Homo sapiens: one gene and its partner. The protein of the gene in region 1 purifies or fractionates together with the protein of each later gene. This does not show direct contact. Each region holds a gene or a part of one and is shown on either strand. Other genes may lie near its edges.

Region 1 (6,145 bases):
GGACGCGTGGTGCTGAGTTAACGCCACAGCAGTAGCTTTTTGCCCCCGTGGACTAGTTTTATACCTGCCCTTCCCCATCCATCATTTGAATGATGTCATTTGTTAGTTGTGCCAGGTTTACATGAAGAGCAAGTGAGCCTATGTTTTCTGTTCAGCCTATGGGATCCTGCTTATTGCTTTGGGGACACCACATTAGAAAAGAGTTACAAGGGCTGGGCGCGGTGGCTCACACCTGTAATCCCAGCACTTTGGGGAGGCCGAGGCGGACAGATCACGAGGTCAGGAGATCGAGACCATCCTGGCTAACACAGTGAAACCCCGCCTCTACTAAAAATACAAAAAAAATTAGCTGGGCGTGCTGGCGGGCGCCTGTCGTCCCAGCTACTCAGGAGGCTGAGGCAGGAGAATGGCATGAACCTGGGAGGCGGAGCTTGCAGTGAGGCAATATTGCGCCACTGCACTCCAGCCTGGGCGACAGAGCGAGACTCCGTCTCAAAAAAAAAAAGGAGTTACAAAGTAGAGGTTATCAGTGGCTGATATCAGGCTGGCCTTGTTTGGATGGGGAAAAGGAACTCCAGAACTGAAAGACAGAGGGACTGGACTGCCTCTTGAGTGTGGAAGGTGGATCAGAGCCAAGCAGGGAGCTGGGGAACCAGCGCTGGGAGTGGCTTGCCTGGTGGCGCAGACCCAGCTCACTCAAGATGGATCTCATACTGGGGAAGCCAGGAGATTCAGCTCTGCTCCGAAGGCCCTTCCTGTCTGCACGTGGGTATCACTGCATGAAGAGGAGTAGAGACCCGATTGGGCAGAAGCCATTCCTTGTTCTATTTTTGAAGCTTTTTGGCTGAAGCCAGTGTTTCATACGAGGAAATGAAAGTTGGCTGATGTAATTCAGTTTAAAATAGGTGTCACCTTTGGGGACCTAACCCAGATTGTAATTTTCTTTTGCATGCTGGGTATTCAGAACTCAGCAAAGAATGTGTTGTCAGGATTGCAACTGAGGTTGGGGGGTAAGGGTGGAGACTGGCTCATTGTTGGCAAAAGCTTCTGTTAGATTGATAAACTCTTTCCAGGTAACAGTTGGGACCTCATTGATCCCGATAGATCTTAGAAGTTCTAGCACATCTTAATTTCCTTAATAGTTTAATTGATGAAGAGCATTGATGAAGAGTTAGGAGGTCTCCCTTTGTACCTACATTTTCCGCTTTTTTAGAATGAGAAGATGAGAACGACCTCCAGTTCACATGTACGGGTGCTGTGAGGATCCAGTAGGGGAGATACAGTGCTCAGCACCAAGCAGGTGCAAGTGAGCACAATCCAATTTTACATCAAGTTACCCCTCCAGGACAGTTGCTTTGACGTGGAAGGTAGAGAGGGAGTTGAAAGGAGGGTTTGCATGGTTGGCAGAGGTGCCCTGCAGCCTCCCTGTGCAGGCTGTAAACCGTCTCTGCCCCCCTGGAAGCCGTGGAAGGTGGGTGGTATGGATGAGATCCCATCTGACTCTGTTCCTGAGCTGTTTCTGAAGTGAGCTTGTTCATGACGGCATGGATGTGCTTGAGCCTAGCTATCCTTAACTGGTGGTGATGCACAGGGGACATGCTTCGGGCATTCCATGCAGCCTTGCGGAACTCTCCCGTCAACACCAAGAATCAAGCTGTGAAGGTAAAGGGGTGGCGCTGCGGCTCTGCTGGGTGCTGTTGGGACCAGGGCTGTGGGTGTCTGCCCAGTGCGAGTGTGAGCTTTCATCCACATCAGAGGGAGTGAGTTGGCACTGGGCGGGGCTTCCAGGGAAGCCTCCTGGCGCTCCCTAGGTGGTGAGGCTTCTCTGACATCAACGCTGTCAGCGTTTATATACGAGAACCTCCCCACAGAAGCCTTCACTCCTGCTCACGGCCTCGTAGGCTGAGAAGTCAGCCTGGCCCTGGCTGATGAGGAAAATGGATGAATTCGCTCACCTGTGGTGCTTATGCTCCCACAGACTGTTAAATAGGCTTTGTCTGCCTGAGGATTTTAAGTACCCGTACGCTTTCCTACCTTCTAAAAACTAAATTGTGCTTACTGCATCACCAAGTCTAAAATTTGGTTCAGAGAAAGGGGTCTCCCTGCAGCTGGGATTCTGGCAGCTGTGACAGCATCTTGATGTCACCAGTGGCTGCACCTTCACAGAGTTCTGGGGAATGGCCCCACCCTTCTGGGTGTGAACACAAGAGGGACGCTGCAGCCGAGTCAACCTGGTTTTATTTTTATTTTTTAATAGTCCACCACCATTGTGGAGTATAATAAGGCCTTATTGGTGTCATCTAAAATAGTGATGGGCTGGGTGCCATGGTTTATGCCTGTAATCCCAGCACTTTGGGAGGCAGGAGGATCGCTTGAGCTCAGGAGTTTGAGACCAGCCTGGGCAACATAGCGAGACTTTGTCTGTATTAAAAAATAAAAAAAATAATTAGCTGGGCATGGTGGCATGTGCCTGTAGCCCTAACTGAGGTGGGAGGATTGCTTGAGCCTGGGAGAGGCTGCAGTGAGCTGAGATTGCACCACTGCACTCTAGCTCAGGCAACAGAGCGAGACCCTGCCCCTCCCTCCCTCTCTCCCTCTTTTCTCTTCTCTCTCTCTCTCTCTCTCAGAGTTGATACTTGTCCTAGTAAACTACTTACTCCCCCAAAATAAGTAGGGTAACTTGTTGGCATAAATAAAAGATACTTTGAAATTTAAATCCACAAAAGACGTTCTAACCCACTTATTTTAACCATCCTGGACGAATTAGAAACTGGGCAGTGTTTCTGGTGATCTGTGTCCTTGCTTTGGTGTGGGGCATGGCATGGCGGTGCCTTCGCAGCTCTGGGACTCACTTGCTCTTTTTCGTCTGCAGGAGCGAGCCCAGGGCGTGGTGCTGAAAGTGCTCACAAACTTCAAGAGCAGTGAGATTGAGCAGGCTGTGCAGTCACTGGACAGAAACGGCGTTGACTTGTTAATGAAGTACATTTATAAAGGCTTTGAGAAGCCCACAGAAAATAGCAGCGCAGTGTTACTCCAGTGGCACGAAAAGGTATGTGAACGCTGCCACGCGCCCCAGTGAGCCACCTGGCTTGCCTTGGGGTTCGATCAGCAGGCCAGATTTTCCAGAACAAACGTAGGACGGTCTGATAGGCGTGTGGGGTCAGAGGACGAGCCCCAACCTGGGACATGTCATCACTTCCCTCTCCCAAGGAAGCTCCTGGTAGGGACCTGCTGTCTGTGGTAATTGCAGTTACTTTTTTGCTTTTTAGCTGCCGATTTATGTCAGGCAAGACAGGGTGCCCTTGGTACAGGACATGTGGGCAGATAACATGGCATAGTAAGGTGGTCAGGGAGTCTAGGTAGGAAGGGGGCCTGCTGGTTGGTTGGGGCTTCATGATACTTGCAGTGGTGGAGGCAGCTGTTGGGGGTTCTTAGAAATAGAGTCCTCCAGCCAGCTCTAAGGGCTTCCTGCCCTGGCCTCAGCCTTAGCAGGCCAGAGTGAGCAGTGGGCAGAAACCTTGACCTCACTTAATATGGCCTTCGTCCAGGTGAAGCAGAAAGAGCTGTGTCTGCCCTTCGCTTGGGTCCGTGTGAGAGCAAGGCCTTTGGCAAGCCTGTGTCGTGCCTGTACCACTGGGGCTGCCTCCCACACCCTCCCCTGCACACCCCTAGTGCCGCAGTAAGCACGCCCACCATTAAAGCAGACCAGGAGTTACTAACCTGCCTGCCTTCCTCAGAGGCTCAGTGTTGAGTTGGAAGAGAGGGGTTTTACAGTGGGCCAGTCCTTAAGGTGGTGTGGGTGCTGGGCTGTGGTTGTGGCCTTAGGTCTGCTGGCGGGTGTGCTGCACCTCCTTGGCCTCCCCTCTCCTGGGCTCAAGGAAGTAAACAAGTCCTCTGTATGATGGGGAGGCCAGGACCTCTCGTCCCTTTAAGGCAGCTTGGTGCCTGCCAGTCACCTCAGCGGGCGGCAGTCAGTGGGCTTGTGTGCATCTGTAAACTCAGCACTTTGGGAGGCTGAGGCAGGAGGATTGCTGGAGCCCAGGAGTTCAAGAACAGCCCAGGCAATGTAGTGAGAACCCATCTCTACAAAAAAATAAACTAGGCTGGGTGCGGTGGGCTCACGCCTGTAATCCCAGCATTTTGGGAGACGGAGGCAGGCGGATGACCTGAGGTCAGGAGCTCAAGACCAGCCTGGGCAACATGGTGAAACCCCGTCTCTACTAAAAATACAAAAATTAGCCGGGGGTGGTGGCGGGCGCCTGTAATCCCAGCTGCTCGGGAGGCTGAGGCAGGAGAAGCGCTTGAACTGGGGAGGCAGGGTTGCAGTGAGCCGAGATCGTGCCATTGCACTCCAGCCTGGGTGACAAGAGCGAAACTCCGTCTCAAAAAAAATAAATTAGCCGGGCCTGGTGGTGCACACCTGTGGTCCCAGCTACTCAGGAGGATGGCTTCAACCCAGGACATCAAGGCTGTGCAGTGAGCTGTGATCTGGGCAACAGAGTGAGACCCCATCTCAAAAGGGAAGCTCGAGGGCTCTGCTTTGTGTGCTGGTGACAGTGTTCTCAAGCCAGTTCTGCCCAAGAGCCAACAGCTCTCGGGACCCCACGGCTCCAGGACAGGGCTCCTTCCCTAGAATGTGCTCTATCTCAGGAATCCTCTTTCGAGGATCTGTGACGGGATCTAGGTCAGGGAATGTCCCCCCTGTCTCTGGCAAGCCAGGCTCCCCTTGGCCAGCCAGGTCTCATCTGACACGTTTTCTTTTCCTGCCCCCACAGGCCTTAGCAGTAGGAGGACTAGGCTCCATTATAAGAGTTCTTACAGCAAGAAAGACTGTTTAAAAAAAATAAAAAGACTCATGTTACCTTGAGAAGAATTCTGGATGCCCAGGCTGGTGAAGAAGGGATTGACAATGGACCATCTTCCTAGGAACTCCCAAGTAAACTATTTCAGGACATGTATCTGCTGAAATGTATTTTATTTTCAAGGTGGAGGGGAAAATCGTCTGTTTCCTAAATCCTGTTTAGGATCTGATAGTCTATGCCTTTGTCTCCGAGTACTGCAGAACTGACATTTTGACGGTCTACCAGCGTGGCGGCTGGTGTTGGTCAGATGCACCTGTGTGCACTGGGGGAGGGATGGTTTGGGCAGGTGCAGATCCAAGGGCTGTGGTAAACGGGAGAGCTTGTGTTTTTGAAGTGGAAAAAAACCCAAGAGTTTGTACAGACATCCTGTCTTCCCAGAGAAGGTGGACACTCTTGGGCTCATTGTAAAGTGCCTGCTGCATCAATAAAGCTCTTGGCTTATTAGTCTATACATTGCGGTGTGTTTCGTGTATGTAAAAAAAAATGGTAATGAATGGGATGGTAATGAATGAGAGTTCAGTTGTTGTTCCGGAAACCCGATGTGGAAGGAGTAGACCTGTGTCCCTGTTGAGCCACCCCTGGGAGCGAGCATGGCAATCCACAGGCCCTCTGCCACAGGACGCCAGCCTCGGCCTCAGAGCTGCCGGCTGCTGCAGAGAGGTGTTTGCTGAATAAACTATTTATTGTTTCTTATTCCTTTGATTTGTATGTAATTAATTTTGGAGCTTATTTAATTAATTTAATAAAGTGCCAAACATTTAATAATTGATCTAGGCTTTAAAAGTCTTCAGTTTGTGGGATTGCACTTGGAATCTTTTGAGGGTGGGGCCTCAGATGTGCCTGGTCACGTCTCCTGATGCTGGGTTGGCTGTGCTGCAGAATCACTGCTGCATGGACAAGCTTTCTTTAAAGAACTAAACGTCAGAAATGGGGAGCAATCAATCAGCAAATAGATGGTATAATTTGGTTCCCCATAACCAATAACAGAGCTTCTCTGAAGGGCAAAAATGCTTTTCTTTCCTTTTCAGCACATGTGACTGCAGCTTGCATTCTGTTAAAGGTTAGGGCCCCATTCACACTCCAGAAGCTCCTCTGGGTCATACAGCCTTTGGATACAGACTTTGACCAAAGTGACACAGTCCTCCCCTCCACAGCTCTCCCCTCCTCAGTCCCTCTTCAGAACCACTGCAATTCTTGGGGGGGGTAGAATGGGGCTGTTGGCTTCATTAAATTACGTATATTTATTCACCCAAATCCAGTCTGGGAAGGTTCTTTCTGAAAGA
Region 2 (2,906 bases), on another chromosome or scaffold:
CTTATGAGAAGAATGTTTCTCATTTCTTGAAACAAAATGTTAAATCTAGTATACAGTTTAATGTCCTAATGTAAGACATTAAACTGGAAATCTCTCATTTTTTTTTCTTTCTTTTTGAGATGGAGTCTTGTTCTGTCACCCAGGCTGCAGTGCAGCGGTGCAATATTGGCTCACTGCAACCTCCGCCTCCCGGGTTGGAGCGATTCTCCTGCCTCAGTCTCCCAAGTAGTTGGGATTACAGGAGCACACTACAACACCCGGCTATGTTTTGTATTTTTAGTACAGACGGGGTTTCACCATGTTGGCCAAGCTGGTCTTGAACTCCTGGCCTCATGTGATCTGCCCACCTTGGCCTCCCAAAGTGGTGGGATTACAGGCGTGAGCCACCATGCCAGCCTTGGAGATCTCTCTCTTTTTTTTTTTTTTTTTTTTTGAGACAGAGTTTCGCTCTTGTTGCCCAGGCTGGAGTGCAATGGCAGAATCTCGGCTCACCACAACCTCCGCCTCTGGGGTTCAAGCGATTCTCCTGCCTCAGCCTCCCAAGTAGCTGGGATTACAGACATGTGCCACCACGCCCAGCTAATTTTGTGTTTTTAGTAGAGATGGGGTTTCTCCACGTTGGACATGCTGGTCTCGAACTCCCAACCTCAGGTGATCCACCCGCCTCAGCCTCCCCAAGTGCCAGGATTACAGGCGTGAGCCACTGCGCCCAGCCAGAGATCTCTTTAAAACCTAAAAGTCATCCGCAGAAGAACGGCACATTCTCAGTGAACTGGAATTTTTACTTCTAGATGTCCATTTATTCATTGAGGAAAAATGGAGTGCTGTTTTGGAAACAGGCCCTATTGGACACCAGCCCAGGTTTAACTATATAGATATATATTTATAGCTGACACTAATTAATTTAATAAACATTTAGTACATATCTCCTGGGTGCCATGCATGATGCTGAGCACTGAGAATATCCAATCTGAATGAGCCTGTCTGGTAGAAGAGAGAGGTGGATACGGGGGCTGGGTAGGGGATTCGGCAGAGCTCAGAAGAGAAGCCAGTGCCTCTGTTTTCACACAGAGGAATCTAGGGGGATGCGTGGACTGCAGGGAACAGGTTGCACCTGAGCGGCATCCTGAGTTGCGATGGGTTTTGGAGGGAGGGACTGTGAGTTGAGAAGACACAGGCGAGCATCCTCGGCTGCAAGTGCAGCACACCCAGGGCAGCCCTGGGCTTCAGAGAGCGCACACTGCCTCTGAGGCGCTGCCCGTGCTGTGGTCCTCCGGAAGCACAGATGGAGCTAGAAAAAAGAGCTCTAGGTAGCCAGGCGCAGTGGCTCATGCCTGTCTTCCCAGCACTTTGGGAGGCCGAGGTGGGAGAATCGCTTGAGGCCAGGAGTTTTGAGACCAGTTTGGGCAACATAGCGTGACCCCATCTCTATAAAAAAGCCAGGTGCAGCCAGGCGCACTGACCCACTCCTGTAATCCCAGCACTTTGGGAAGCTGAGGCTCGTTTCTCCTCACTGCTTTCCTGTCTTGAGCACAGGAGTTCGAGACCAGCCTGGGCAACACAGTGAGATCCTGTCTCTATTTAAAAATATACATATATATATTTTTAAAAACCAGGTGCAGTGACGCATGCCTTTAGTTGCAGCTACTTGAGAAGCTGAGGCAGGAGGATCACTTGAGCCCAGGAGTTGGAGGCTGCAGTGAGCTGTGGTCACACCACTGCACTCCAGCCTGGGGCAACAGAGCAAGACCCTATCTTTAAAAAAAAAAAAAAAGAGGAGTGAGGAGTGTGCCCAGAGCCTGTGTGTGTGGCAGTGGGGAAAAGGCACACCTGGCCTGGAGGAGCCAGCAGGGGGAGCCCCGGCCTGGAGTGTCTCTGCGGGGTGAGTCCTGGGAGATCCTGTTTCAGGTGGGGCAGGGCCAGGTTCAGGGTGGGGACAGGCAGAACCTTCCCTGAGGAAGAGGGAGTGGTGTCATACCTACCTCGGGGTAGACACTCCTCAGTGACATCAGTGCTCTTCCCACCTTTTCCAAGACCCTCGAGTCTTCCATCCAGGGCCTCCGGATAATGTGAAGCTGAGTGAGCCTCCGCCATCCAGCATGACAAACTGTGGCCGACCGCAGCTGTGCCGTGGCACGATGGCGAGGAAGCCAGCCCCAAGGAAACACTGAAAACACATATCACGCCAATGCCGTGTGGTTTTGTTTGAATATAAAATTGGTGAAAGTGTTGGTTTTTTTAAGGCAGTAATTTTTTTGTTTGTTTTTTTGCGATTTCATTCCATTCTTGACCAAAGCTTCTCTTTAAGTAGTTTATTATGGAAAATTGTCACACTAACTTAAAAGACAGGGTGAGGGAGATATGTAAATTGTCCACTAGAAAATTAAATAAAAGAACTGAATGTGGTTTTGGTTTTGTTTCCTTGTAGTATTTCAATTTTTAGTAGAAAAATATGAGCGAATTCTTCATTCGATTCAGTTTTTTTTAGGCAAAATCTTAGATCCTTGGTTTCTTAAATTGTACCATTCTATACAACCTTGAACCAAAAAGCACCATTTAGTGAGGGGTGAGAGAGAACCGTTTCTGAACATTGCAATACTTCTGCAAAGTAGGTTGTGTCGGTCTGTTTTGTGTTGCAATAAAGGAATACCTGAGGCTGGGTAATTTGTTTAAGAAAAAAGATTTATTTGGCACACGGTTCTGCCGGTTGGACAAGAAGCATGGTGCCTGCGTCTGCTTTTGGGGAAGCCTCAGGAAGGTTTTACTCATGGCAGAAGGCGAAGGGGAAGCAGGCGTGTCCCATGGCGGGAGAGGATGCAAGAGAGAGTGGGGAGGACCAGGCTCCTTGAAACAACCAGGTCATAGAGTGAGAACACACTCATTCCTGCCAGGGGGCACCAAGCCAT

The links. The genes of interacting proteins can lie anywhere in the genome.
Region 2: the proteins of ARPC5L (region 1) and ARPC1A fractionate together in Homo sapiens (co-fractionation; 7 studies listed by BioGRID and IntAct, with this or other methods). This does not show direct contact.

Annotation. Positions count from the first base shown.
Region 1 is NC_000009.12:124,872,103-124,878,247, forward strand, and holds the end of ARPC5L (actin-related protein 2/3 complex subunit 5-like protein), read left to right. Parts: exon of another isoform or gene 1-1,564; coding exon of another isoform or gene 1,565-1,584; exon of another isoform or gene 1,585-1,589; coding exon 1,590-1,662; intron 1,663-2,872; coding exon 2,873-3,049; intron 3,050-4,775; coding exon 4,776-4,838; 3' UTR 4,839-5,631; downstream 5,632-6,145. UniProt on the Homo sapiens protein: May function as component of the Arp2/3 complex which is involved in regulation of actin polymerization and together with an activating nucleation-promoting factor (NPF) mediates the formation of branched actin networks.
Region 2 is NC_000007.14:99,363,857-99,366,762, forward strand, and holds the end of ARPC1A (actin-related protein 2/3 complex subunit 1A), read left to right. Parts: intron 1-2,034; coding exon 2,035-2,073; 3' UTR 2,074-2,406; downstream 2,407-2,906. UniProt on the Homo sapiens protein: Probably functions as a component of the Arp2/3 complex which is involved in regulation of actin polymerization and together with an activating nucleation-promoting factor (NPF) mediates the formation of branched actin networks.